3 linked regions of the Homo sapiens genome follow. The protein of the gene in region 1 purifies or fractionates together with the protein of each later gene. This does not show direct contact. Each region holds a gene or a part of one and is shown in the gene's direction. Other genes may lie near its edges.

Evidence for each region.
Region 2: the proteins of SHC3 (region 1) and ZAP70 purify together in Homo sapiens (affinity purification with western blotting, with the first as the bait; one study listed by BioGRID). This does not show direct contact.
Region 3: the proteins of SHC3 (region 1) and NTRK1 purify together in Homo sapiens (affinity purification with western blotting; 2 studies listed by BioGRID, with this or other methods). This does not show direct contact.

What each region holds. Positions count from the first base shown.
Region 1 is NC_000009.12:89,046,200-89,049,926, reverse strand, and holds part of SHC3 (SHC-transforming protein 3), read left to right. Parts: intron 1-2,932; coding exon 2,933-3,083; intron 3,084-3,727. UniProt on the Homo sapiens protein: Signaling adapter that couples activated growth factor receptors to signaling pathway in neurons. Involved in the signal transduction pathways of neurotrophin-activated Trk receptors in cortical neurons.
Region 2 is NC_000002.12:97,726,985-97,730,711, forward strand, and holds part of ZAP70 (tyrosine-protein kinase ZAP-70), read left to right. Parts: intron 1-3,727. UniProt on the Homo sapiens protein: Tyrosine kinase that plays an essential role in regulation of the adaptive immune response. Regulates motility, adhesion and cytokine expression of mature T-cells, as well as thymocyte development.
Region 3 is NC_000001.11:156,867,365-156,870,864, forward strand, and holds part of NTRK1 (high affinity nerve growth factor receptor isoform 2 precursor), read left to right. Parts: intron 1-739; coding exon 740-885; intron 886-1,140; coding exon 1,141-1,283; intron 1,284-3,500. UniProt on the Homo sapiens protein: Receptor tyrosine kinase involved in the development and the maturation of the central and peripheral nervous systems through regulation of proliferation, differentiation and survival of sympathetic and nervous neurons.

The sequences.
Region 1 (3,727 bases):
AGACTCGGTGACTCCAGGGCAGCCACGTAGTGGAAGAAGATTTATGGAGAGAAAAAGGAAAATGACTTACAGAAAATGGAAGTGAGGTTCAGAAATAGCTGGATTGGTTACAGCTCGGCGTTTGCCTTATTTGAACACAGTTGGAACAGTTGGCCGCATTTGATTGGCCAAAACTCGGTGATTGGCACAAGAGTAGGCTACAGTCTGTTTACACCTCCACTTGTATAGTTCAGGATTTACAGAGAAACCTTTAGGCCAAATTTAAATACGTAAGGAGGTAGCTTTAGGCTAAACTTGATTTAACATAATAGATCAAAAGGTTAACACTTATTTAATCTCCATGGGGGATGCATAAGTATATTTCATATTAATTATTATGCTAGCCTTTGTTTCTGAAATGTTGAATAAAAGCCAAATAAATGCTATTAAGATAATACACACAAAAATGAATGGAGGGAGTTAGTTTAACTACCATACTTCTCTGGCAGTGTACATAATGTATGAAGTTCTGTATGTGTTTGTATGTAGTGAAGTTTGAAGGACTTTTGGGGAAAGAAAATGTAGTAGACAGGATCTTATCCACTGAGAAAAATGTCGCCTCCAAATGCAAGTATTGGCATATCATTTCTGGTTTTGTTTTGTTTTGTTTTGTTTTGTTTTGTTTTTAAGAGGGAGTCTGGCTCTGTCACTCAGGCTGGAGTGCAGTGGCGCGATCTTGGCTCACTGCAAGCTCCACCTACCGGGTTCGCGCCATTCTCCTGCCTCAGCCTCCTGAGTAGCTGGGACTACAGGCGCCTGCCACCACGCCCGGCTAATTTTTTGTATTTTTAGTAGAGATGGGATTTCACCGTGTTAGCCAGGATGGTATCGATCTCCTGACCTCGTGATCCGCCCCTCTCGGCCTCCCAAAGTGCTGGGATTACAGGCGTAAATCACCGTGCCCGGCCGGCATATCATTTCTAAAGCAGAGCAGTGACAAGGGGCCCTGCCTGTAGCTTCATACTGTCGGTGACCTGACACCCCCCTCACCTTATCCTGCAGAGGCTCCTGGTGTCCCGCAGGGTACTATCCGAGAGCGGGGTGACGGGGATCTCCTGAGCTTGCCCTGCCTTCCGTTTCAGCTCCGCTCCTCCAGCAGGGTGCAGCCTGGGAACATGAGAGAACCCACACTGCATCCAGCTGTTCCAGCCCCATTCTCTGGGGACACTGAAAAACAAATCAGATGCCACTAAGACTCCATTTATTATTATTTTTAAAATTGATAATTCATATATAATCAAATTGCTCTTTTAAAGTTTACAGTTCAGTTGATTTGTTATATTCAAAAGTACAATTATCACCATTAATTCCAGAACGTTTTCATTACCCCCCAAAGAAACTCTATACTCATCAGCAATTACTCCCCATTCTCCACTCCCCACTCTTCCACCAACCACTAATCTACTTTCTGTCTCTATGGATTTGCCCATTCTGGACATTTCATATAAATGGAATCATACTGTATGTATCTGGCTTCTTTCACTTAGAAGAATGTTTTCAAGATTCACTCATGTTGTAGGATCTGTCAGTATTTCTTTCATTTTAGAGTTCTTAATAATATTTGAGTGTATAGGTATATGACCTTTTGTTCATCCAGTCATTAGTTTATGGACAGTTGGGTACTTCTACCTTTTTTTTTTTTTTTTAATGGAGTCTTACTCCATTGCCCAGGCTGGAATGCAGTGGCACGATCTCAGCTCACTGCAACATCCACCTCCCGGGTTCAAGCAATTCTCTCGTCTCAGCCTCCCGAGTAGCTGGAACTACAGGTGTGTGCCACCACGCCTGGCTAATTTTTGTATTTTTAGTAGAGACAGGGTTTCACCATATTGCTCAGGCTGGTCTTGAACTCCTGACCTCATGATCTGCCCGCCTTGGCCTCCCAAAATGCTGGGATTACAGGCATCAGCCACTGCGCCCGGCCCTACCTTTTAGCTCTTATGAACAATGCTACTGTAAAGATGTATACAAGTTTCCTTATGGACATATGTTTCAATATTCTTATGTATATACCTGGGAGTGAAATTCTGTGGTCATATGGTTATGCTGAAACTGCAAAGCTATTTTCTAAAGTGGCTGCACCATTTTACAGTCCCATGAGCAATGTGTGAGGGTTCTAATATCCCCACGTTCTTATCAACACTTTTTCTTGTCCATCTCTTTGATTATAGCTACCCTAGTGGGCATGAAGTGGTCTCTGGTTGTGGTTTTGATATGCATTTTCCTGATGACTAACGATGTTGAGGAACTTTTCATGCATGTATTGGCTTTTTGTGTATCTCTGGAGAAAAGTCTGCTCAAATCCTCAGCTCATTTTTAAGATCGGGTTGTCTTTTCATTGTTGAGTCGTACGAGTACTTTATATATTCTAGATACATGTCTCATTTAAGATACATGTTAGCAAATATTTTCTCCCATTTTGTAGTTTGTATTTTTACTTTCTTGATAATGTCCTTTGAAGCACAACAGTTTTTTCAAATAGCAGAAGGGAGAATTTTGAGAGGTTCATATTCTACCATTTTCCCTCATATCACTAAATTTCCATTTTGTAGTTGGTTTTGTTTGGGATCAATTTCATGGCTTACAAAAATGTGTGCTGTCCCTTGAGGAGCTGGCTATCCTTAGGCATAATTTCTTTTTTAATTAAAATGTACTTTTACAAAAGGACATCCTTCAAACATGATTGAAATGTTCCAATGAGTGAAACTCTGAATATGGCAGAGATATTTTGCTAAACCACTCATCTGCTTTTCATCTATGCATGAGACCTGGATGGCTGAGGAGGCACTGACTAAACTCTCTTTTCTTAATAACAGGCGCTAACATTAGATTTGTTGATTTTGGCTGCAAGTTCAACTTTTGGCTAAAGCCCTTGGAAATCTTCCTTTAACAGAATGCAGAGTCTGGATGAGCCATGGACGGAAGAGGAGGGAGATGGCTCAGACCACCCATACTACAACAGCATCCCAAGCAAGATGCCTCCTCCAGGGGGCTTTCTTGATACTAGACTGAAACCCAGACCCCATGCTCCTGACACAGCCCAGGTAAGTCTTATAGTTTTTTTCTTATATAAGGAATGGAGGCTAACTCTACTTTATTTCCTTTTGTTTTCTTTGGTTTTATTTCAGGCTGATGTTCTGTTTCATTTTTGACACAGTAAATCATGAGCTTTCTCTCACTGGATTTCATGAGGCATGCAGATGAAGAGAGGCTTTGGGTTAACATCATAAAGCATTGGCCAAATGCTTTGGAACTGTGTGGTGATTCCTGGGATATGAGTCTGGGGGTGTCCTCTGTACCCTCAGACATATTCCATCATACTGTGATCTCAGTGAGGGAAAGAGAGAATTTAAGATTTTAAAAAGGCTTGGGAGGCATTGGGTTCTCTGAAAAGGAGTGAATATAGACGCTTAAAATGATGAGAATTTTATGAGTTTTCTATTTTATTCATTCCCTTGTTTTATGTCCAACTCAAAATTCTAGTAAGGCAATTGCTTTCTAGAGTTATGATATTTCTGTTTTGTTATAGGAAATTTTTTAACGTTACTACCTTATGTGAATGATAATGACACCACTAAAAATGGCAAAATAACGTTGAGCTCAGGGATCTGACACTGAGAGGGAATTTCCTGATTTTTTGAAGGAAATTTCCTGGTTTACAGAGTGGACTTGACCAAGTGTGAACGAT
Region 2 (3,727 bases), on another chromosome or scaffold:
GGGATGGCCACACTCACATGACTGGCCATTGGCTCAGTGTCACCTGGGTGATGGGGATGAGCTGGCCCAGTGCAGCCATCATCCAGCAAGCTAGCTGAAGCTTGTTTGTGTGGTGGTGGTGCAGGGTTCCCAAGATCAGTCAGAGAGGACAGGGCAAGTTCAAGCCTTTGTTTGTGTAATGTCACTGATGTCCTAATGGACAAAGCAAGTCATACGACCAAAACCAAAGTCACTGTAGGGAAGGGATTCCTTAAGGGAGAGGAATGCAGGGAGCCATTTTTGCAAACGGTTGGTCGTAGGATTGGATGAAGCAAGTTGTCGTGAAGGTATGGGCATTGTGAACATGGGTGTTGGGGGCTGTCTCTCTTTCCTTTTGGACTGTCAGCCTGAGGGCAGGGCCTGCCCTGCTGCATCTGGAGGGCTCCATCTTGCAGTACATGGTGATGGCTGGTCCAGGTATTACCCACCTTCCTCCAGATGTTGCATCACCCCACCCCAGGTGTGACCCTCGCCAAGATGTTAGTAATGTTTGCTCCCACGTTCTCACATGCTCATATCCCCCTCGTCCATTACATGCTACCCCAGGTGCCTGAGAGTCCAGGGGCTCTCCCCAGGCTGGACACGCGAAGAAGGCTCTAAACCCTTCCTATTGATGTAGCTGATTCTTTCCTTCCGTCTCTGCTTTCTCTTTCATAAAATGTAAATTCATCTGTCTTCTTTGATTTTATAATCTGAGTTTCTTCTCTGTTTTCCCCCTACATCCCCAATGTAGCTTTTCATCCCCACCATCTCTGCCTCTCTTCTGTCTCAGTTTTCCTTTCTTCTTCTCTCTTTCCCTCCCCACCCCCATCTCTCTTCCTCATCTTGCACTCACACACACACATACAGGTCATGATTCTGCCACTCCAATGGCTTAAAAATTTCCCCCAGATTCCCTAAAGCCTCCTGAGAGTGGCAGAGGATTCTAGGGGGTGGGAGAGTGAGAGAAGGGTTGAGCAGGTGGGATTTGGGCCCCTGTTCCAGCTTGAATGACGACAGCCGCTCAGCTTTGATCTGTTTGCTATCTTAGGCTTCCACACACAATGTTGTGTGGCAGAGGTTTCACTGCCCAAAGGAAAAGTTCAAACAGTTTTTGTGTAACACAGCAGAGCTCATGACAGGCTTAGAGTCAACCAGTCTGCTGAGATTAGAGGAGTCTCAGGAGAGCCAGGGCCAACAGCTTTAAGCAGCTGTCTGTGCATTGCATATCAAACTGGCGTGCAGTCTCCCAGGCAAATAGGACAAGCGTTGGCGGTGGGAGGGTGTGGCTAGGAAGGAGAGATGCCCAGCATCTGGGCACAGCATAGAGCGTGTGGCTGGCAGTGAGGTCCACAGCTGGCACAGTGGTATGAGGACAATGACTCATTCTGGGTAAACGTCAAGAGACGAAGCAGCTACAAAGAGCCAGGCTCCTGGAAAATTAGGCAAGGTACGCTTTGGACAGAAACTGTGAGAGCTTCTTCTTGTGGTTCCTGTAGTCTATAACTGCTTTCTCAGGGCTTGGGGTGTGAGAGAAAGACACGTGCTACTCAGGCCTAGAGTGAAGACCAGGACCACGCCTACCATTGATCACAGTTCATGGTTGCCGAAGAACAGATTTAATTGTACCCAGGGCTGTGCACTGCCAATGCTGGCTTGTTTCTGTGTTATTGGCAGCAATTTTATGGAACCGGCTGATTCGACTTTAAAAGAAACTTGTCCTGGAAAGGGCCTTTAAGAGAGTACATTGTCAAGTGTTTCTTTTTTTGAGACAGAGTCTTGCTCTGTCACCCAGGCTGGAGCACAGTGGTGCAATCTTCGCTCACTGCAACCTCTGCCTCCCGGGTTTAGTGATTCTTCTGCCTCAGCCTCCCTGAGTAGCTGGGACTATAGGCGTGCACCACCACGCTTGGCTAATTTTTGTATTTTCAGTAGAGACAGGGTTTTGCCATGTTGGCCAGGCTGGTCTCGAACTCCTGACCTCAGGTGATCCACCCGCCTTGGCCTCCCAAATTGCTGGGATCACAGGCGTGAGCCACCGCGCCTGGCCTGTCAAGTGTTTCTTATCCTCTCCTGGACTGCAGACCTCTTTGGAATCCTACTGACTGCTCCTTTCACAATCCCCCAAAGCATATTCACCTCAAAGACTTTGCAGACAGTTATATGAGATCATGGTTGGTCCTGAACCTCGTCCTTAGAACCCTTTTCAGGTCAAGAAGTTATGATTTAGACCAGTTACCTCATTTTATACATAAGGAAACCGAGGCACAGCGAGGATAAGCAGTTTATTCAGGGTTTCACAGATAATCTGTGACAGAGCTGGGTGTTAGTCCTAGGTAGCAATTAACTGTAGAGTCAGAAATGCATTTGAATCCTGGCTCCCCCTCCTATCTCTTACCAACTCTGCAATTTAGGCAAGATACATAATCTTGTGCCTCAGTTTCCTCATCTGCAAAATGGAGATAACAATAGTGCCTACTTTGTGGGGAGTGCTGTGATTATAGGACAAATATGTGAGGAATTTAGAACCAATATCTTAATAAATAAATTGTAGCCCTTTTGTTTTGTTTTGTTTACAATCGTGAACCAGAGACAGATGTAGCTCTTATAGGTTCTATGTATTATTTTAAGAGCAGAGATACAAGTTGATTTTTTAGCCTGTACTTCTGGCTTAAGTGCAAGTTCCAACTGCAAGAACAAAGAACTGCCACTACCTAGCATTTTTTTTTTTTTTTGTAAATCAAGTAGAACTTATGGTACTGAAATATATGTGGTGATAACACCAATGTCTTAGCTTTTGTGGTTATTATCTGGGAATTTGCAGCTGCTCTTTATGAACTCACACATCTCTTTCCAAAGAGTGTATTGGTTAGCTTTTGCTGTGTAACAATGTGCTGTATTCATACCCTGAAATGTAGTGGCTTAAAACAATGGTCATTTACAGCCAAGTGTGATGGCTCACACCTGTAATCCCAGCACTTTGGGAAGCTGAGGCAGGCGGATCGTCTAATGTCGGGAGTTTGAGACCAGCCTGGCCAACATGGTGAAACCCTGTCTCTACTAAAAATACAAAAATTAGCTGGGCATGATGGTGGGTGCCTGTAATCCCAGCTACTTGGGAGGCTGAGGCAAGAGAATCACTTGAACCCAGGAGGTGGAGGTTGCAGTGAGCCAAGGTTGCACCATTGTACTCCAGCCTGGGCAACAAGAGCAAAACTCTGTCCCAAACAAACAAACAAACACCGATCATTTATTCACTCTTGTTTTGCTTGGCAATTTGGCTGGTTGCTTGGTAATTTGGGCTGAGTTCAGCTGGGTGCCTCTTCTGCTGGGTTTTTGAGCTTACTCATGTGGCCACAGCCAGCTGGAAGATTGGCTGGAGCTGGATGGTCTCTGGGATGGCCTCACTCACATGAATGGCTATTGGCCACTCATGTAGGGTGCCTTGGTTCTCCTCCATGGGCCTTCTCTAGCAGGCTAGCTTGGACTCATTCCCATGGTATTTGGAGAGCTGCCAGGAAAAGCAAGAGAGGGCAGGCCAACCTCAATGTTCAACCATTTTTCAAGCCTCTGCTTGTGTCATGTTTGCTAATGTCCTGTTAGCAAGGCACATGGTCAAGCCCTGATTCAGAAGACAGAGGAGGAGGCCCCACCTATTGATGGGAAGAGCTCCCTAATATTGTGGCTGTTTTCCCCCAGTATTCCACAT
Region 3 (3,500 bases), on another chromosome or scaffold:
CTCCTTGTCACCATGCTGAGAGCCCTTGCCTGGTTTCTCATCCTGGGGAGCCTGGGGTGAGGGAGCCCCATGCATCCCTCAGACGTCAGCTGTCTTGTCTTCCACTTTCTGCATTAGATTTCTTTCATTTTTACGTTATTTTTTCTTTTTGTAGAGTTGGGGTTTTGCCATGTTGCCCAGGCTGATCTTGAACTCCTGGGCTCAAGCCATCCTCCGCCTCGGCCTCCCAAAGTGCCGGGATAACAGGTGTGAGTCACAGCGCCTGGCTTATTTCTTTTCTTTTCTTTCTTTCTTTTCTTTTCTTTTCTTTTTTTTTTTTTATGAGACGGAGTCTCGCTCTGTCACCCAGGCTGGAGTGCAGTGGCACAATCTCATCTCGGCTCACTGCAAGCTCCGCCTCCTGGGTTCACGCCATTCTCCTGCCTCAGCCTCCTGAGTAGGTGGGACTACAGGTGCCCGCCACCATGCCTGGCTAAGTTTTTGCATTTTTAGTAGAGACGGGGTTTCACTGTGTTAGCCAGGATGGTCTCGATCTTCTGACCTTGTGATCCGCCCGCCTCGGCCTCCCAATGGCCTATTTCTTTGAATAACATCCTGTTACTGGAGTCAGAGAGAAAGACCTCTGTGTCCTCCCTTTCACCTGTAGACGGTCCTCCCTGCTGCCTAACTGCTCCCTCTTATCCCCTGTGATCCCTCAGGCCCTTTCCTTGACTCTGTTGGTGTCCCCCATGCCCCCCAGGGTCCTGTCGGGGAACCCTCTGCACTGTTCTTGTGCCCTGCGCTGGCTACAGCGCTGGGAGGAGGAGGGACTGGGCGGAGTGCCTGAACAGAAGCTGCAGTGTCATGGGCAAGGGCCCCTGGCCCACATGCCCAATGCCAGCTGTGGTAGGTGCCGGGTGAGGGAGGTGGTGTAAGGGGGCTGGGGAAGAGACCTACCTGCCTGAGGGAGAGGGCACTGAGCAAGCACTGAAAAGGCCTGGGGAATGGGCACTGGCAAAGGCTGGGGGAAACTGCCTGGGGTGACATCGCCTGGGCTCCAGGTCATTGAGGAGGGTGGGGGAAGGAGCAGCCCCGCAGTAGAGTTCTGGGGCCACTCCCAGCTCTAACACCCCTTGGCCCTCGGGCGTCCTGGGTGGCCAGGTGTGCCCACGCTGAAGGTCCAGGTGCCCAATGCCTCGGTGGATGTGGGGGACGACGTGCTGCTGCGGTGCCAGGTGGAGGGGCGGGGCCTGGAGCAGGCCGGCTGGATCCTCACAGAGCTGGAGCAGTCAGCCACGGTGATGGTGAGAAGACCTTCGCTGGCAGCCCCCAAGAGGTCCAGGCAGAGCACAGGGGACAAAGATGGGGAAAGAGAGACACACTGTGGAGGAAAGAGACAACGAATAAGGAGCACACTGAGGTTGAGGGACGGACAGAGATGGTTTAGACCCACAGGGCTCAGGCCTATGCTCTGGGGCAGCCCAGGGCACGCACACACCCTCAGGGTGGGCACTGACCCAGCAGGGACCCCAGGCTATACTTGAAGCCCCAGGACTTAGAACCCCTTTCTGGGAACATGGTGTTGGCTGCAAGGGAGAGGGTCACAGAAACCTTACATGTTGGAGCTGAGAGGAACCCAACAGACCATCCCTCCCGTACATCACTTTTCTCTCTCCCTTCCTTCCTTCCTTCCTTCCTTCCTTCCTTCCTTCCTTCCTTCCTTCCTTCCTTCCTTCCTTCCTTCCTTTTATGGAGTTTCGCTCTGTTGCCCAGGCTGGAGTGCAGTGGCGCGATCTTGACTCACCGCAACCTCCGCCTCTCGGGTTCAAGCGATTCTGCGATTCTCCTGCCTCAGCCTCCCGAGTAGCTGGGAGTACAGGCACGCGCCACCATGCCCAGCTAATTTTTGTATTTTTAGTAGAGACAGGGTTTCACTACGTTGGCCACGCTGGTCTCAAACTCCTGACCTCGTGATCCACCCACCTCGGCCTCCCAAAGTGCTGGGATTACAGGTGTGAGCCACTGTGCCCGGCAGATCACTTTTCTATATAAGGAAACTGGAACCCAGGGAGGAGGCACAATATCAGTTGTACTGCATCCGGGATGAGTTCTCGGGGGTATCGTGGTCTTTTTTCTGGAGATTCTGGAAGCAGCATCCTCTTGGGCATGTGATGAACGTATTAGTAAGGGAGGCATAGGTCTGGCTCCAGCTCTCTCACTAATTAATTCTGGGAATGACTTTCAGAAAAATCCCTTAATCTGCCTGCACTTTGGTTTTCTTATCTGTAAGCTGAGAAGGTGGACATGATGGCCTTCTGATGTCCTGCCTGCCCCTGGGCGTTCTCTGGCCTCTATCTCTGTTATCCATACATGCCTTTGGACATCTTCCCAGGCCTTACCCTTTGTCCTTAGGCTGGCGATGGGCCGATGAGAGTAGCCACAGGTAACTCAGTCGGCCTTGTTGACGAGGTCAACGGCAGCTGACAATGGGCTGTGCCCACCCAAAAAGCTGGCTCCACCTGGGCAGGAGGAGTGGATATGCAGGGACCAGGAATGTGTGCCTGGGGGGCTGGGAGCATGGTGTTTATTTGGGGAGCCTTCACTTTGGTGGGAGAGTCCACCCCAGAATTGCTGGAGGCCCCTGGAACCATGTTGAGGGAGATGCCACTGGGGCGCTGAGCAGGGGGCTTCAGACATGGTGGAGGGACAACTAGCCACTGAGCAGTTCCTCCCTGCTCCAGAGAGCAAAGCTGCCTAGAGTGAGTAAAAGAAAGGGGACCAGGCAGAGGCCATACCCCTGCATGGAGAGACCTTAGATCAACTCTGTTTGGGGTGATTCCAGGATTTGCTTTCTCTTTGGGAGACTTACATGTTTGCTACCATCTGTGTTTTCTAGAAACTACCTATACAAAAGTCACTCCCTACTGGGCACAGTGGCCCATACCTGTAATCCCAGCACTTTGGGAGGCCAAGGAGGGATAATCACTTGAGACCAGCAGTTTGAGACCAGCCTGGGCAACAAAGCAAGACCCTATCTCTTAAAAAAAATTGCACCCTAAATGGGTTAAATGGAGGAGAAGAGAGGCTGCTCTCCCTCAGTTAGGAGGATAAGGGGTGGCAGACCAGCTCAAGGGGAAGAGTTATTGGCCCCACAGTAGTTGGAGGGGATGGGACAGCCAAGGGAAGCAGAGGGCAGGGCAGGGCTTCCCCTCGAAGTGGCTGGAACCCAGAGCTTGCACAAAAGGCTGGAAACTCTACTGGAACCTTTGAACTCACATATTCCAATGGAAGCCTGGGGAAACCATACCTCCTCTGGCATGTGGTCAGAGGATTCCACATTTATAAAGTTTTCGGATAAATGAGATTTATCCACCACTTCATTATTTTCATTTTGTGAAAATCACTTTCTAAAATGTCAGAAGATAATTTGTCCACCTCTTCAGCTTACAAAACAAACAAAAAACCCACAGTTCAGCAAGATGAAGAATTGTCGTAAGATCATGTAACTTACACATGACAAA